Homo sapiens: one gene and its partner. The protein of the gene in region 2 purifies or fractionates together with the protein of the main gene of each other region. This does not show direct contact. Each region holds a gene or a part of one and is shown on either strand. Other genes may lie near its edges.

Region 1 (7,025 bases), on a different chromosome or scaffold from region 2:
GGCGGATCACGAGGTCAGGAGATCGAGACCATCCTGGCTAACACGATGAAACCCCGTCTCCACTAAAAATACAAAAAATTAGCCAGGTGTGGTGGCAGGCGCCTGTAGTCCCAGCTACTCGGGAGGCTGAGGCAGGAGAATGGCATGAACCCGGGAGGCGGAGCTTGCAGTGAGCCGAGATCGTGCCACTGCACTCCAGCCTGGGCGACAGAGCGAGACATTGTCTTAAAAATAAATAAATAAATAAAGATGCAAATTCACACACATCACTTAATGACTTTCCACTGCACGGAGAATAAAATCCACAGGCCTCTTTTCAACCTTAGATGGGGATCTGCCATCTGCCCTCAACAGACACTTTTTTCCACTGGTCCAGAGTAAGCACAGTCCAGATGGCCTTGCCCTGGCCCAGGCCCAGGAGTAGGGATGTCCCATTGCTCTTGTGGTTGCTTGTCACCAGTCTGTACTCTAGCCAGGGGCCCATGTGGGCTTCCCCACTATGCCAGGTCTCAGCCCCCAAGGCACTCTGTGAGCTTGGCCCAGCCTTTCCCTTCTCTGGGCCAGGTTTCCCAGATAACTGTAAAAAGGGACACCAGGCCTGTATCCTCCCAGCCCTGCTCTCCAGGGGCTCCTCGTACAATCCGTTTCTTCACCACCTATATGGTGCCCAGCACTGAACAGTACAGCTTAGTGGGCACCATTGGTCTTATTCTTGGGGTCATTAGGAACTCATTAATAAGTGACATTCACTGGCAGCCCCATTTCCAACCTGCAGCCCCACCTCCTGTCAATTCAGGAGGACTTCTGAGAGGTGACAGGGTTTGTGGGCATATGAGTGGAGGTGGATAAGAGGGAAGGGTGGGAGGAGGCCCCTGACTTAGAGGCTGGAAGCTAAGGGTCCGTCTTGGTGTCCCCACCCACCAACCTTCAGGCTTCATCGGTTATGCCCCCAACCTCAGCAAACTGGTGGCCGAGTGGGAGGGCCAGGACAGCGACAGCGATCAGCTGTTTTACACCAAGATCTTCTTGGACCCGGAGAAGAGGGTAAGAGGCAGTGGGCGGGCCAAGGAGAGGGGGCTGGGGATCCACCGGCCAGGCTGCACGGGAACAGCTCCTCTCAGGCCTGAACCCCTGGGTTGGTGTCTTAGTCTATGCAGGCTGCTCTGACAAACTGCCATAGGCTGGGTGGCTCCCAAACAACGGATGTGGATTTCTCATGGTTCTGGAGGCCGGAAGGGTGAGATCACAGTTGGGTTCTGGTCAGAGCCCTCTAACTGGTACAGACACAGCTGACTTCTCTCTGTGTCCTCAGATGGTGGAAGGGGGTAGGGAGCTCACTGGGGCCTCATTGATAAGGACACTAATCCTATTTTTTTATTTTTGGGATGGAGTCTCACTGTATTGCCCAGGCTAGAGTACAGTGGTGCGATCTCGGCTCACTACAGCCTCTACCTCCCTGGTTCAAGCGATTCTCGAGCCTCAGCGTCTCGAGTAGCGGGGACTACAGGCGTGCACCACCACGTTTGGCTGATTTTTGTATTTTTAGTAGAGACAGGGTTTCACTACGTTCGCCAGGCTGGTCTCGAACTCCTGTCCTCAGGTGATTTACCCGCCTCGGCCTCTCAAAGTGCTGGGATTACAGTCGTGAGCCACCGTGCCCGGCTGTCGGGTCTTAAAGAGGCAGCATTGTTCATTGGTTCAGAATAAGGACTTCAGGGCCAGGCTGCCTGGGTTCCAATCCCAGCTCACCATTTACTAGCTGTGTGACATTGGGCAACTTCTCTGTCCCTTGTTTTTTCCGTTATGAAATGCAATAATGGGCCAGACCCAGTGGCTCATGCCTGTAATCCCAGCACTTTGGAGGCCAAAGCGGGTGGATCACCTGAGGTCAGGAGTTTGAGACCAGCCTGGCCAACATGATGAAACCCTGTCTCTACTAAAAATATAAAGATTAGCCGTGCGTGGTGGTGGGTGCCTGTAATCCCAGCTACTCAGGAGGCTGAGGCAGGAGAATTGCTTGGACCTGGGAGGCGGAGGTTGCAGTGAGCCGAGATTGTGCCATTGCACTGCAGCCTGGGTGACAAGAGCCAGACTCCATCTCAAAAAAAAAAGCAATAATGATAATACTTTCTCACAGAGATGTTGTCAGGATTAAATTGATTAATATATGTAGAATAGTTTATTTATTTATTTGAGACAGGGTCTCACTGTCACCCAGGCTGATGCGCAGTGGCAGAAACATAGCTCACTGCAGCCTCAGCCTCCCGGACTCAAGCGATCCTCCCACCTCAGCCTCCTGAGTAGCTGGGACTATAGGCCTGCGTCACCATGTCTGGCTAATTTTAAGATTTTTTTATAGAGATGAAGTTTTGCTATGTTGCCCAAGCTGGTCTCAAACTCCTGGGCTCAAGTGATCCTTCTGCCTCAGCCTCCCAAAGTGCTGGAATGACAGGAGTGAGCCACCGCACCCGACTCGTGTAGAATATTTGGAGTAGCGGCCAGGTGCGGTGGCTCACACCTGTCATCCCAGCACTTTGGGAGGCGGGGGGCGGGGGCGGATCACCTGAGGTCAGGAGTTCGAGACCAGCCTGCTCAATGTGGTGAAATCCCATCTCTAGCAAAAAAAAAAAAAAAAAAAAAAAAAATTAGCTGGGTATGGTGGCACATGCCCGTAGTCCCAGCTACTCAGGAGTCTGAGGCAGGAGAATCGCTTGAACCCAGGAGGCGGAGGTTGCAGTGAGTCGAGGTCGTGCCATTGCACTCCAGCCTGGGTGACAAGAGCGAAACTCTTTCTCAAAAAAAAGAATATTTGGAGTAGCTATGTGCGTGTAGTGGAGTGCTTGGCAGGTGCTGGTTACTCTTAACGGCCGTCATTGTTGTAGGTGAGCCGGCTGCATTCTTAGATTCCTTCCAGTTCAGAGTCCCTGGTTTTCTGTGAGTAGAGCCACTAGACTGTAGACCCCAGGAGCTTGGCTGCTGGCCTTCTCTGGGCACCTAGCTGCCCTGATGTGACGTGGCAGAGTCGGTGTGGGGAATGAGGGCTGAACTTGGGGACAGATTCCCCACACTGGGTGAGATGTAGCCCCAGCCTCCCCCAGGGCCTGTCCCTGCTGCAGTCTGGTACCTTCTTTCCTGCAGGAGCAGATCAATATCACCCTGGACCACCGCTGCCGTATCTTCCAGAACCTGGATGGAGCCTTGGGTGAGCAGCCCCCACGGGGAGGGGTGGATCCTCAGAGGGGTGATAGGAAGAATTCCAGGCAGGGCCCGAGCCCAGGGAGGAGAAATGGGCTGCTTCTTTCTGGCCATTGTGCTGAGAGGTCACTGGCCTCATCCCCAGGTCCCCAGGGGCCACTTGGATATCCTGGCGCAGAGCCATGTCTCTCTTGGGGGCGGGGGACAAGTGAGCATTCAGCCTGGGAGGAGTTGGGGGATGCGCACAGCAGGTGCTGGACCCCCTGCCCTGCATACCAGGTCCTTACAGGTGGGCCCTCTTTCCCCACTTTCCCGGCCCTCCCACCTTCCAGGTGAAGGAGTCCTGGGCTAGGGGCAGGAACTCAGCTGGTGGGACAGGCAGCTTGGGAAGCAAAAGGCTACTTGACCCTTGATGCCGCAAACATCCCTGGGCCTGGCCTCATGTCTGTGGCTGGTGATGACATTGCTTTGCCGCAGGTCTTCCTGTCTTCCTGAGTGACCTCAGGCAAGTCACACCTCCTCCCCACAGGGGACTCAGTTTTCTTATCTTTACAAAAGGGAAGTGAACCGGATCCACTGATTGCTGATTTTGTGGATAAATGGGCCCTTTTGAGAATCTGATGAAAGCTACGGCTCTGCTCCCAGAGAAACGCAGAAAATGCCCTTTGCCTGTGGTTTCTGGGGGTTAAGAAGCACTGAGTTCAGATCCACGCAGGTCAGGAGCTATCTGTTTTCCTTTTTTTTTCTTCTTTTTTAAGATGGAGTCTTGCTCCATCGCCCAGGCTGGAATGCAGTGGCGAATTCTCGACTCACTGCAACCTCCGCCTCCCAGGTTCAAGTGATTCTCCTGCCTCAGCCTCCCAAGTAGCTGGGATTACAGGCGCACACCACCATGCCCGGCTAATTTTTGTATTTTTTTAGTAGAGATGGGGTTTCACCATGTTGGCCAGGCTGGTCTCGAACTCCTGACCTCAGGTGATCCACCTGCCTTGGCCTCCCAAAGTGCTGAGATTACAGACGTGAGCCATCGTGCCCAGCCCTATTTTAATTTTTAAAATAGAGACAGGGTCTCACTATGTTGCGCAGGCTTGTCTCAAACTCCTGGGCTCAAGTGATCCTCCCACCTTGGCCTCCCAAAGTGCTGGGATTACAGGTGTGCGCCAGCGTGCCCAGCTGAAATACCCATTTTCCTATGTGCAGACTAATAGGGTCAAACATGGGTATTGGGGGCCAGGCACTGTAATCCCAGCACTTTGGGAGGCCAAGGCGGGTGGATCACCAGAGGTCATGAGTTCAAGACCAGCCTGACCAACATGGTGAAACCCCGTCTCTACTAAAAATACAAAAATTAGCTGGGTGTGGTGGCATGTGCCTGTAATCCCAGCTACTCAGGAGGCTGAGGCAGGAAAATCACTTGAACCTGGGAGGCGGAGGTTGCAGTGAGCCGAGATCATGCCACTACACTCCACACTGGGCAATAGAATGAGACTCCATTTCTAAAAAACAAAAAACAAAAACACACACAAAAAACATGAGTATTGGAACCCTGCTGCAGGGGCTCCCTCCACTGGGACAAGATCTGTCCTGATCATGCCCAGGCCTCCCCTGCATGTGGCTCTGGCATTTTCTCAGTGCTGCTCTGCCTACTCAGAGAAGGCGCGTCCCAGACCCTTTCTCTTGGGGCTTCTCTGAGGTGCCTGGAGCTGGGATGTTCCAGGTCTTCGTTCTTCTCCCAGCCCCTGCTTCTGACTGTAAGTAACCACAACAAGTACAGGGGTTGCCGTGGATTCTGTGCTCATGATGGGCCAGGCTTGGTGCCCCACGCTTGTTCAACACAAATCCTCCCCCTCACCCCATGAAGAAGGGATTATTCCTATTTTATAGATGAGGAAACTGAGGCTTAGAGAGAAGTGACTTGCCCGAGGACATAATCTACTCACTGCACAGCTGGGATTTGAGCCCAGCTGGTTGGACCCTGAGCCTGACCTCTGGGTCTGATGCTGGGTGGGACTGTGCTTTCTGACCCCCAGATGAGGTCGTGCTCAAGTTTGAAATGGGCCATGTGAGAGCGAGGAACCTGGCCTATGACACCCTCCCGGTCCTGATCCATGGCAACGGGCCAACCAAGGTAGGGGGTCCCCAGCCCCTGGGGAGTGTGGGAGGGGGCCAGAGCCCTAATTTCATTCTCACTGTGACCCCACAGTGTCTCCCTGGGGCCAGGGCCACCTTCCTGGGGCCTGCTATGAACTCACTGCCTCTGTCCTCACATCTGAGCTCAGCGTGATGCCTTCTTTTCCTGCTGTGGTGGTCAGTGGTACTCTGTCTGTTCTTGCTGGTCACAGGACACGTAGGAGGCTGCCATCCCCTTCCAGGCCTAGGCTGGGCTACCAGAGCCATCTGCACTGTCACCCCAGGGCAGAGTCACTTATTCACTCAGTAAACCTTTATTTCATGTTTGCACCAGACAGTAAGACATAGTCATAAGCAGGACGGATGTCCTGCATTCATGGTGACAGAAGGGACTGGGTGCAGATGCGGCCAGGGACAGAATGGACCTCACTGGTCCCTGGGGAACTGGCTCATAGCTCATAGCATATTTGAGTGTGGTCCTTCACCGCTGGAATGAGGGAGAGGAAGGAGGATGTGATGTGTTTAAAATGCAAATTTGCTGATTTCACCCAGGATCTGTTCAGATGGAATCTCTGAGCGGGGTGGGACCCAGGAATCTGCATTTTACAAGCTCTCGGGAGAAGCACTAGAGTGCCAAGCCCTCCCCTGCCCTCTCTCAGAGCGGCTTGGTGATCTCCTGGGGATGGAGCATTATCTCCAAGACCCTCTTAGGGAGTGGGAGGGGGCTGGATGGTGCTGACCCACTGGGGGCCCAGGGAGATGTGAGTCAGGGCTATGGCAGGTGGGGCTGGCTGGCTTCTCTGTGACCCCACGTCTCCCCGACAGCTGCAGTTGAACTACCTGGGCAACTACATCCCGCGCTTCTGGACCTTCGAAACAGGCTGCACCGTGTGTGACGAAGGCTTGCGCAGCCTCAAGGGCATTGGGGTGAGGCTGCGCCCAGGCCTGTGCCTGAGGGACACGGGGGGCTCAGTCCCCTGAGATGGCGAGATGGGTGATTCTGGAATAGACTCCATTGTCTTTGGTGGAAAGTGAAGGGGTCACCTCCCTGCCTGGGGTTCTATCCCGGTTGCCACCCAAGTGCCTCCTCCTGGAAGCCCTCTCAGATTGCATGTCTCTAGCTTCCCCCGAGATGTCCAGGTTCTGGTTTCTTCTGCCTGGTCCTTCAGGCTCTCCTGCAGCCCCCTCCCCATCCCATGAACCTCATCCTCATTTATGACTCACCTCGAACACCACGCCAGCCACGATCTCCTGACAGCAGGCCCTCAACCGAGTCCTTGTTCCAGGCCTGGGCTCCTGCTGCTCTCTCCCCGGGGCACCCTCCTGCTGCTTCCCTGCCCCCCCGTACCCCCTGACTGGAGTTCCCCGGCCCGGGCACCTTTCTTGGGAAGTCTACATGCTTCTGATTCTGGCTCTGACTCCCTTGGGCCACCCTGGGGTGGAGTGGCAGTGCTGTGACTGGACACTGCTGGACTCTTGTGCCGCCCTCCCTGGTGCAGGATGAAGCTCTGCCCACGGTCCTGGTCGGCGTGTTCATCGAACAGCCCACGCCGTTTGTGTCCCTGTTCTTCCAGCGGCTCCTGCGGCTCCACTACCCCCAGAAACACATGCGACTTTTCATCCACAACCACGTGAGTAACAGGCGCTCTGTGGGGTCGTCATGTGGCTTAGATCCAGGGCCCAGCTTCACAAGGTAGCCC
Region 2 (7,756 bases):
GAGAGCTCTTCCTCCATCACAACCCCTTTCCGGGGCATTTACCACACGCCACCTGTGTTTCAAAAGCAGGTGATCATGGAATCCCTCAGAGCAGAGGCCACATCCTACTTGTCTCCGTGTCCCTTGAAGCACACATTAGAGTGCCAGGCACACAGTAGGCACTCACTAAGTTATAATGCATAGAATGAAAAGATTTTCCTGGTTGCCCTTATTTTCTGTGTATACACAGCCTATCTTCAGAAGAATTAAGAGTCTATAAGCTTCTGAATATAGAATATTTTATATCAAACTGTTGGAAAATATTTCCAAAGGATTACAAGGAACAGCTTCCATTTTTTTAAAGCTTAAGTTTATTTCTGAACTGTGCTATCATAAAGCCATGGTGACTAAATTAGGGGGGCAAAGCCAAGTGACCACCGGAGAAAACATATCTTTGTGATACTGAGCTGGTTACCTTAGTGATTCCCGCTAGGTCTATTCCATTGTTTTCCCTAATGTCTAATGACCACATTCCCAGCCAGAAGTGCCTGTGGATGTGCGCACTGGTTGTTCTCCATCCCAACCCTCCCCTTGGCTCTCTGCCCTCAGTGTTCCAGTCCCTGACCTCCAGGCTCTGCCCTCTGGCTTCAAGTTGGGTTGGCCAATGAGAGGCGCTGCCAAAAGGTGCTTGGATGGGAGGAGAGAGAAGATGGTGTACTTCTCCTTCACTTTCTCCCTGCTTTAGGGCCTTCCATGACCAATGCTCTTGCTTAATGGCCCCTTCTCTAAGGCTCCAAATCTGCCTGGGATCCATTTTCCTATTTGCCCCTCTTGCCTTTTCAAGCACAGGGTGGTAAAGGCATATTGCAGTTGCTAATCTCTAGGTGCCTCAGCATTCCTTGTTGGTTCCCTTAACCCCGCCCACACCTCTCAAAGTGATCCCTTCATTCAGATCTTTTCATCTGAACCACCTGAGTTGCTTCTTTATCCTGCTGTTGCCCTGATTGGTACAGTCTGCAAAAAGCTTACCTAAGAGATATCTATGTTGTGCCAGGGTGCTCTCCAAGGCAAAGAGTTCAAAAGAAAACCAGAGGTTCTTTTCTCTCTAGTTTTCTGAACTCCTTAACCACTTTGGTGCTATTTAAATTAAGTAATACAAAATGATGGTAAACCCCAGTTTGCAGATGAGAAGCTTTTATTCATTCATTCATCAAATATTTATTGATTACTATGTGCCAGGCACTGTTCTGACCCTGGGAAAACAGTAAAGTACAAGAGAGACACATGCCCTGGCCACATGGTGCTTATAGTGTAAGGCCACTGTCTCTCAGAAGTCAGGGAGCTCATCAGAGGCAGGGCTAGAACCAGAAAACTGAGTTTCCTTAAGTCCTAACCTTCAGCAGATTCTCAAAGGAATCCATGACCCAAACATGATTAAGAACCACCAAATTAGGCCAAATTAACTCTCAAGCTTCTCCCTTGAACTGGGGAATGAATAATGACTACTCACTCCTAGAAGAAGCTTGATGCTCTTAACTTGAATTTGCAGGGGCATGTGGGCACACACCCACGGTGACACCACCACTCACCTTTCCTGCCCACCCTCCTGAATTCTCCACAAATCTGCCCCCACCTCCTTCTGTTTCTCACACTTTTATAATTAGCCTCACACCAGTCTCTGAGTCACTCCCTCATGGCCCACAAACGTTGGCTACACAACTTGCTGATGAGCTGTTTTTATCAATGGACAGCAGTTGGGAGCTGGATTCAGAGATGTGCCCTCTCTGAGAGCCTGGCATTTCTGGCCCTCCCTGTGTTTCCAGCAAAGGCAGCGATAGTGAAATTTCTGTCTCAGTTGAAGTATTTATGAGACTCATGTTGGAGGCATAACTAAAACTTTGCTGGGGAGAGTCAGGGGTCACTGAGGTGAATTGAGGGGGGCTGTGAGGGTCTGCCTGCCTCCTTCAAGCCCTCCGGAAACATTTGAGTTTCCTCAGAAAGGTTTAAATAGGCCATACTAGTAACCGAATACTTCCCCTGCTCTGGGTCAGACAAGACAAGGGCAACAGGCTGCTGACCTCAGAAAAGGTTGCAGGCTGGCAGACACAGCCCCTTCCCCAAATCTCCCAGCCTCATACCCGGCAGACACACTCAGCTCCAGACCTGGCTGTCACTGTGGAACCCCCTCCACTTCTCCCTGGAAAGCTCACTTCTCTCAGGACCTCCAGCTGCCTTGTCTGAGGCTGAAGGGAAGTCGCACCCAGGAAGACAGGTCTGGAGAAAGGGAAAACCTAGTCCTGAGGCTGCAACTGCCCCGCCGCTGTTCACCCCCCACCCCACCGGCCCCTGCCACCTGCATTTTCCCTTCGAGGGACTATTGTGGCCATGGATGCTATCTGGGTCTGGAAAGAGGTTTGTTTACTCCACAACAGCCCCTGTGAGGCAAGCCCCCTTCGAAGAGGTCAGAGATGTATTTATAGAAACATCTGAGACTCACTTCTCTATTACTTGCACACCTCTGTCTCTTTTAAGCTCTCCCAAATTCCTGACCAAGATGAAATCATGCAGCAAATGGGGAGAATAGGGGAGGCAGAAACCATTTTTCAAAGTGTCTCTGCTTTGAGCAGCCAGGTAGGAGCCGGTTGGAACAAGGACAGAAGGGGCTTCCGAGACAAGCTCGGGTGACAGGAAGCTGCTGGGGTGGCCGTCTTCCTTCCAACCTCCCTCCACCAACAGTTGAATGGCAAAAACATCAGGACACATTGCAAAACAATCTTCCTTCCTCCCCCTGTCCCCTGACAGATGGAAGAGAGGAAAGTTGTGGCCATCATTTACCTGCTGAGATTGGAAGAACGCTGTTGATGAAAGTCGGCTGAGACACGATAGAGAGGAAGAAAAGCTGAAGATAAATTCCCAAAGTCATTGGATTCAGGACAACCATGCTGGCCAGGGTCTGGCGAGGGTCAAGTTAGAAAGGAGGCTGCTGCGGAGCCTTGCTTATCTCTGCTTTTCTCTTCCTCACTGCTGTTTGCGTGCGCGTGTGTTTGTGTGTGTGTGTGTGCGTGTGTGTGTGTGTCTGTGTGTGTGTGTGTCTTTCCCTCTTTCTCTTTCCCTCTCCCTCCTCCTCACCCCCTCCCTCTCTCTCCCTCCCCCACCTCTCCTGTCTCCCATGCCTTTACCAAGAAAGAATGCCAACCATTTCCCATTAAACTGTCTCCATGCTACAGAGAGTTATATTTATCTCAAGCTCCATATCAAATGCCCACATTAAAATTAAGATGTCAAAATTTTCTTTTTTGGAGACTGAGGTAAGTGGCTAGTGAAGAGGTGATGAGAAGGCAGCCAAGTCTCAGATGTTCACTGGAGGCAGTCCTCAAGGGCAGAGAGATTCCTAATTGGTTATGTGCCACCATCTACCTCCTTGGAACTGGGCAGAAACAACTCTCCTGATTCAAACTGAATTTCATGGAGAAAAACCCCTCCACTGTCAGCCTGTGACATTTTTACCCATTGTGTAACAAATGTAAAGTTAACTTTTAATTTTTTTCTTTAATCATCCAATAAAAAGGAGGAAGGAAGTAGTTTATATTTCCAAACAGCTTTCTCTGTGAAAAAGTGTTTCTCTCTCCAAAAGCTGCAACCTTTTGATTCAATGCAAGGCAAAATAAATGAAAACAGTAAAAGTATAGAAAAGTGAATGATTTTTATCAAACTATATTCAGAAAAATAACATCACTAACTTAATCTTTGGCTAGACAAAATTATTCAAATAAAAATTATCACATTCTTAATACCTTTTATGAGTTTATAAAAGCCTGTTATAGAGATGATTAGATGACTAAAACAAAATAATAATTCACAGAGTTGTTCATTTTGCTTTAATTTACATATTACATGCCTCATAGGAGTTAACTCAGAAACAGTCTGCTAGTTACTGGATGCTGGGGTGGGCATCCTGCCCCTGTGCTCATTATGGGGAAGGTGGAGTTGGGTCAGGGCGTGGTATAAAGTGATATTTTACAGCTGTAGCACCACACTTGGGCTTGACTCTCAGCTCTGAGTGGCAGTGGACAAGCTCACCTCTCTAAGCCTCAGTTTTCTCATCCATACAATGGAGACAATGTTCCCTTTAAAGGTTTGTTGGAAAGTTAAGTGAGGTAATGGGGATGAATCCTACACGGATTAGAACTTGCACATAGGAACAGCACAAAGGAGACCCAAGGGAGCCATGGTAGCCTGGGTGCAAAGATGGCCTCCAAAAGTCCTCCCAACCCAGTGTGTGCATGACACTCTTCCCAGCAAAAAGCAGGGCTAGTTCCCCTCCCTTAAATCTGAGGTGGCTCTGTGACTTACTTTGACCAATAGAATGTGGCTAAAGGGACACTGTGCCATCTCCTGGCCTAGGCCTTAAAAGGCCTGGCAGCTCCTGCTTTTGCCTTTTCTTGAAAATCAGCTGCCACTTTAAAAAGTCTGGACTATTGAAGAGGCCACATGGAGGGGGAAGCAGCCAGCCTCCAGCTGTTCTGACTATCCCAGATGCAGCATCAACAGGCGAGTGAGGCCATTTTGGAACATCTAGCCCTGTCCTGGTCTCAGATGATGCCAGCCACAGGAGTGACCCCAAGTGAGACCCTCGAAAGAACTGCCCAGCCCAGATTACGAAGTCATGAGCAAATAAAACGGCTATTGTTTCAAACCAGTAAGTTTTAGGATGACTTGCTCATCAGCAATAGCTAACTGATACAGAGTTGATAAGGAAAGCTTTTGAAAGCATGAAAAATATACCTGAACTACATTCAAAATTTATAGGACAGATTAAAGAGAGGGTACCCCCATTTAGCTGCTCCCAAAATTTTTACAAGAAGGAGCTGTGATTGCTGGCCAAACTCAATCAGGACATTCTCAGGCTCACTCTTGTTAACTCCTGGAGCCCCAGCAGCCAGCTTCCAGTGGCTTGGAGAAGGTACAGTCTACCTGGGAGGAAGGTATCTTTTGAGTAACTTGGTGTCAGAATATGAATTTTTACTATCTAGCTCAGATTCCTCCTCTGCAAAGCCAGTATGACTTCTTCCTTCTCTCAGCACAAAGAATTCACCACTGACCATACCCTTGGAACAAATTCTGTCAATACGTCCTACCGGTGACACCTGCTGCTATTGTTTTTGAACACCACCTTGTGTTGCTATTTAGCTGGCATTAACATCCCTAAAGATAGGGGACTATCCCACAGCTCTATGTACTCTCAAGGCCCCCAGGACAGTCCTTGTCACCTAACAGATCCTCAACAATGTAAGTTACTTTGATCAAATCACACCACTGGGTAGGATGAAAAAAGAAGAACGTACAAAAGTAGCATAACTTTATGCTCCAGCTTTCTGCACAACTTGCATTTCCCCAGCACCCCTTGGAGCCTCTGCACATACAGCTGGGTGGCCTGCGCCTGATACAAGGGAGGGCTTTGGTGAGTATGGTGAGAGTGTGAGAGGGACTATGGATGGCCACCTTGAATTAGGACCCGCAGACAGAGAGGCTAAATTTATAATTCAAGTCACTGGAGAATGAGTCACTGCTGATCTAAAGTTACGACAGGAGCCTCTACCCTTTGAGGAGGCCCCAACACAGAGTTATTTATAAGGCCCCAATACTTATTAAACAATTTTTAGTAAATTTCCATTTCCTTAGGTATCTTATATTTTATGAACCTATTTCTTATAAGATTACCCTAACTGACCAAGACAGAAATTATCATCTTTCTTCAAATCCTCCTGGAAGGGCTCTGATGTTTCCAGAATCTAATAACATAGACTATTAGATTTGTCCAGAAGGAAACTATTTGAGATTTGAGAAAAGCTCACACCAATAAAGCCATTCAAAGTCAGAGTCTTCCCTCTCAGACCTTGTAGGCAGGACTGTACACTGGAAAACAATCTTTTGGCCCCATTAAACTTAAAATGCACATGCCGTCTGACCCAGAAGTTCTCAGAAATACTCATTCACTACCCAGTGGTTTAGGTGCAAGGGTGTGCATTGTTGCCTCAAGTTGGAAACAGCCTAACTGTCCATGAATGAAACATTGGTGGAATAAATCCTGGGACATCCATTCAAAATGTTATGCAGTGACTAGAAAGAATAAGGCAGTCTTTGCAACAAATGGTGCTGGAAAAATTTGACTTCCATATGCAAAACAAACAAATAAAAATAAAGATTAACCCTTACCTTGCCCCATGCATACAAATTATTTTAAAATAGACCACAGACCTAATTGTAAATGCTAAAATATTAAACTTACGGCAGAAAACAGGAGAAAATCTTAGTGACCCTGGGTTAGGTACAGATTTTTTAAATAAGATGCAAAATACAAATCTTAAATTTAAAAAAGTTAAATTGGACATTATAAAAACTTTAATGCTTCTGCTCTTCAAAATAGAATACTAAATTGGAAAGCCAAGCCAAAAACTAGGACGTAATATTTGCCAAACACATATATGATAAATGATTTGTAGCTAGAATATATTAAAACTTTCACAGCTCAATAATAATAAGATAAAAAACTTAATTAAAAGAAATGGCAGGCCAGACATGGCTCACACCTGTAATCTCAGCACCCTGGGAAGCCAAGGTGGGTGGATTACCTGAGGCCAGGAGTTTGAGACCAGCCTGGCCAACATGGTGAAACCCCATCTCAACACAAAATACAAAAATTAGCTGGGTGTGGTGGCACACACCAGTAATCCCAGGTACTCAGGAGGCTGAGGCACAAGAATTGCTTGAACCTGGGAAGCAGAGGTTGCAGTGAGCTGGGCTCACACCACTGCCCTCCACCCTGGGCAACAGAGCAAGACTCTGTTTCAAAAAAAAAAAACTGAAATGAAATAAAGAAATGGACACAGCCTGGACAACATGGCAAAACCCTGTATCTATGAAAAAAAAACAAAAAACAAAAAACAAAAAACAGAACTAGCTGGGTGTGGTGGTGCATGCCTGTAGTCCTAGCTACCTGGGAGGGTGAAGATAAGGGATCACCTGAGCCCAGGAGGTCAAGGCTGCAGTGAGCCATTACTGCGTCACTCCAGCCTGGGCGACAGAATGAGACCCTGTCTCAAAAAAGGGAGGGAAGGAAGGAGGGAAGAAGGGAAGGAAGGAAGGCAAAAGATGCGAATATATATTTCACCAAAGAAGATACATTAATGACAAATAAACATTTGTAAAGATACCCAACATCTTTAGTCATTAGGGAAATGCAAATTAAAACCACAGTGAGATACCACTACACACCTACTAGAATAGCTAAAATTTAAAAGACTGACAATACCAAGTGTTGGTGAGGATATGAAGCAACTGGAATTCTCAAACATTGCTAGTGGGAATGCAAAATGGTGTAACCACTTTGGAAAAAAATGTCAGTTTTTTATAAAGTCAAATATACACTTATTATACATCCAACAATTCTACTCTTCAGTATTTATCCAAGAGAAATGAAACACATGTCCACAGAAAGACTGTACATGAAAGTTCATAACCACTTCATTTGTAATAGCTAAAACTAGAAACAACCCAAATGGCCATCAACCAGTGAATGGATAAACAAACTGCATGTGTACATACAATGCAAAACTACTCAGCAATAAAATGGAATAAACTAAGTAACATGGAAGAATCTCAAGTGCATTATGCTAAGTGAAGGATGCCAGACACAACAGGCTACATACTGTATAATTCCATTAGTAGGACATTCTGGAAAAGGCAAAACTATGGGGCTGGAGAACAGATCCATGGT

Evidence for each region. Proteins that work in one complex are often made in the same cells at the same time.
Region 1: the proteins of COLQ (region 2) and PLOD1 purify together in Homo sapiens (co-immunoprecipitation; 3 studies listed by BioGRID and IntAct, with this or other methods). This does not show direct contact.

Annotation. Positions count from the first base shown.
Region 1 is NC_000001.11:11,951,692-11,958,716, forward strand, and holds part of PLOD1 (procollagen-lysine,2-oxoglutarate 5-dioxygenase 1 isoform 2 precursor), read left to right. Parts: intron 1-931; coding exon 932-1,044; intron 1,045-3,138; coding exon 3,139-3,202; intron 3,203-5,225; coding exon 5,226-5,323; intron 5,324-6,150; coding exon 6,151-6,252; intron 6,253-6,824; coding exon 6,825-6,956; intron 6,957-7,025. UniProt on the Homo sapiens protein: Part of a complex composed of PLOD1, P3H3 and P3H4 that catalyzes hydroxylation of lysine residues in collagen alpha chains and is required for normal assembly and cross-linkling of collagen fibrils.
Region 2 is NC_000003.12:15,518,706-15,526,461, forward strand, and holds the start of COLQ (acetylcholinesterase collagenic tail peptide isoform I precursor), read right to left. Parts: upstream 3,002-7,756; 5' UTR 2,921-3,001; coding exon 2,815-2,920; intron 1-2,814. UniProt on the Homo sapiens protein: Anchors the catalytic subunits of asymmetric AChE to the synaptic basal lamina.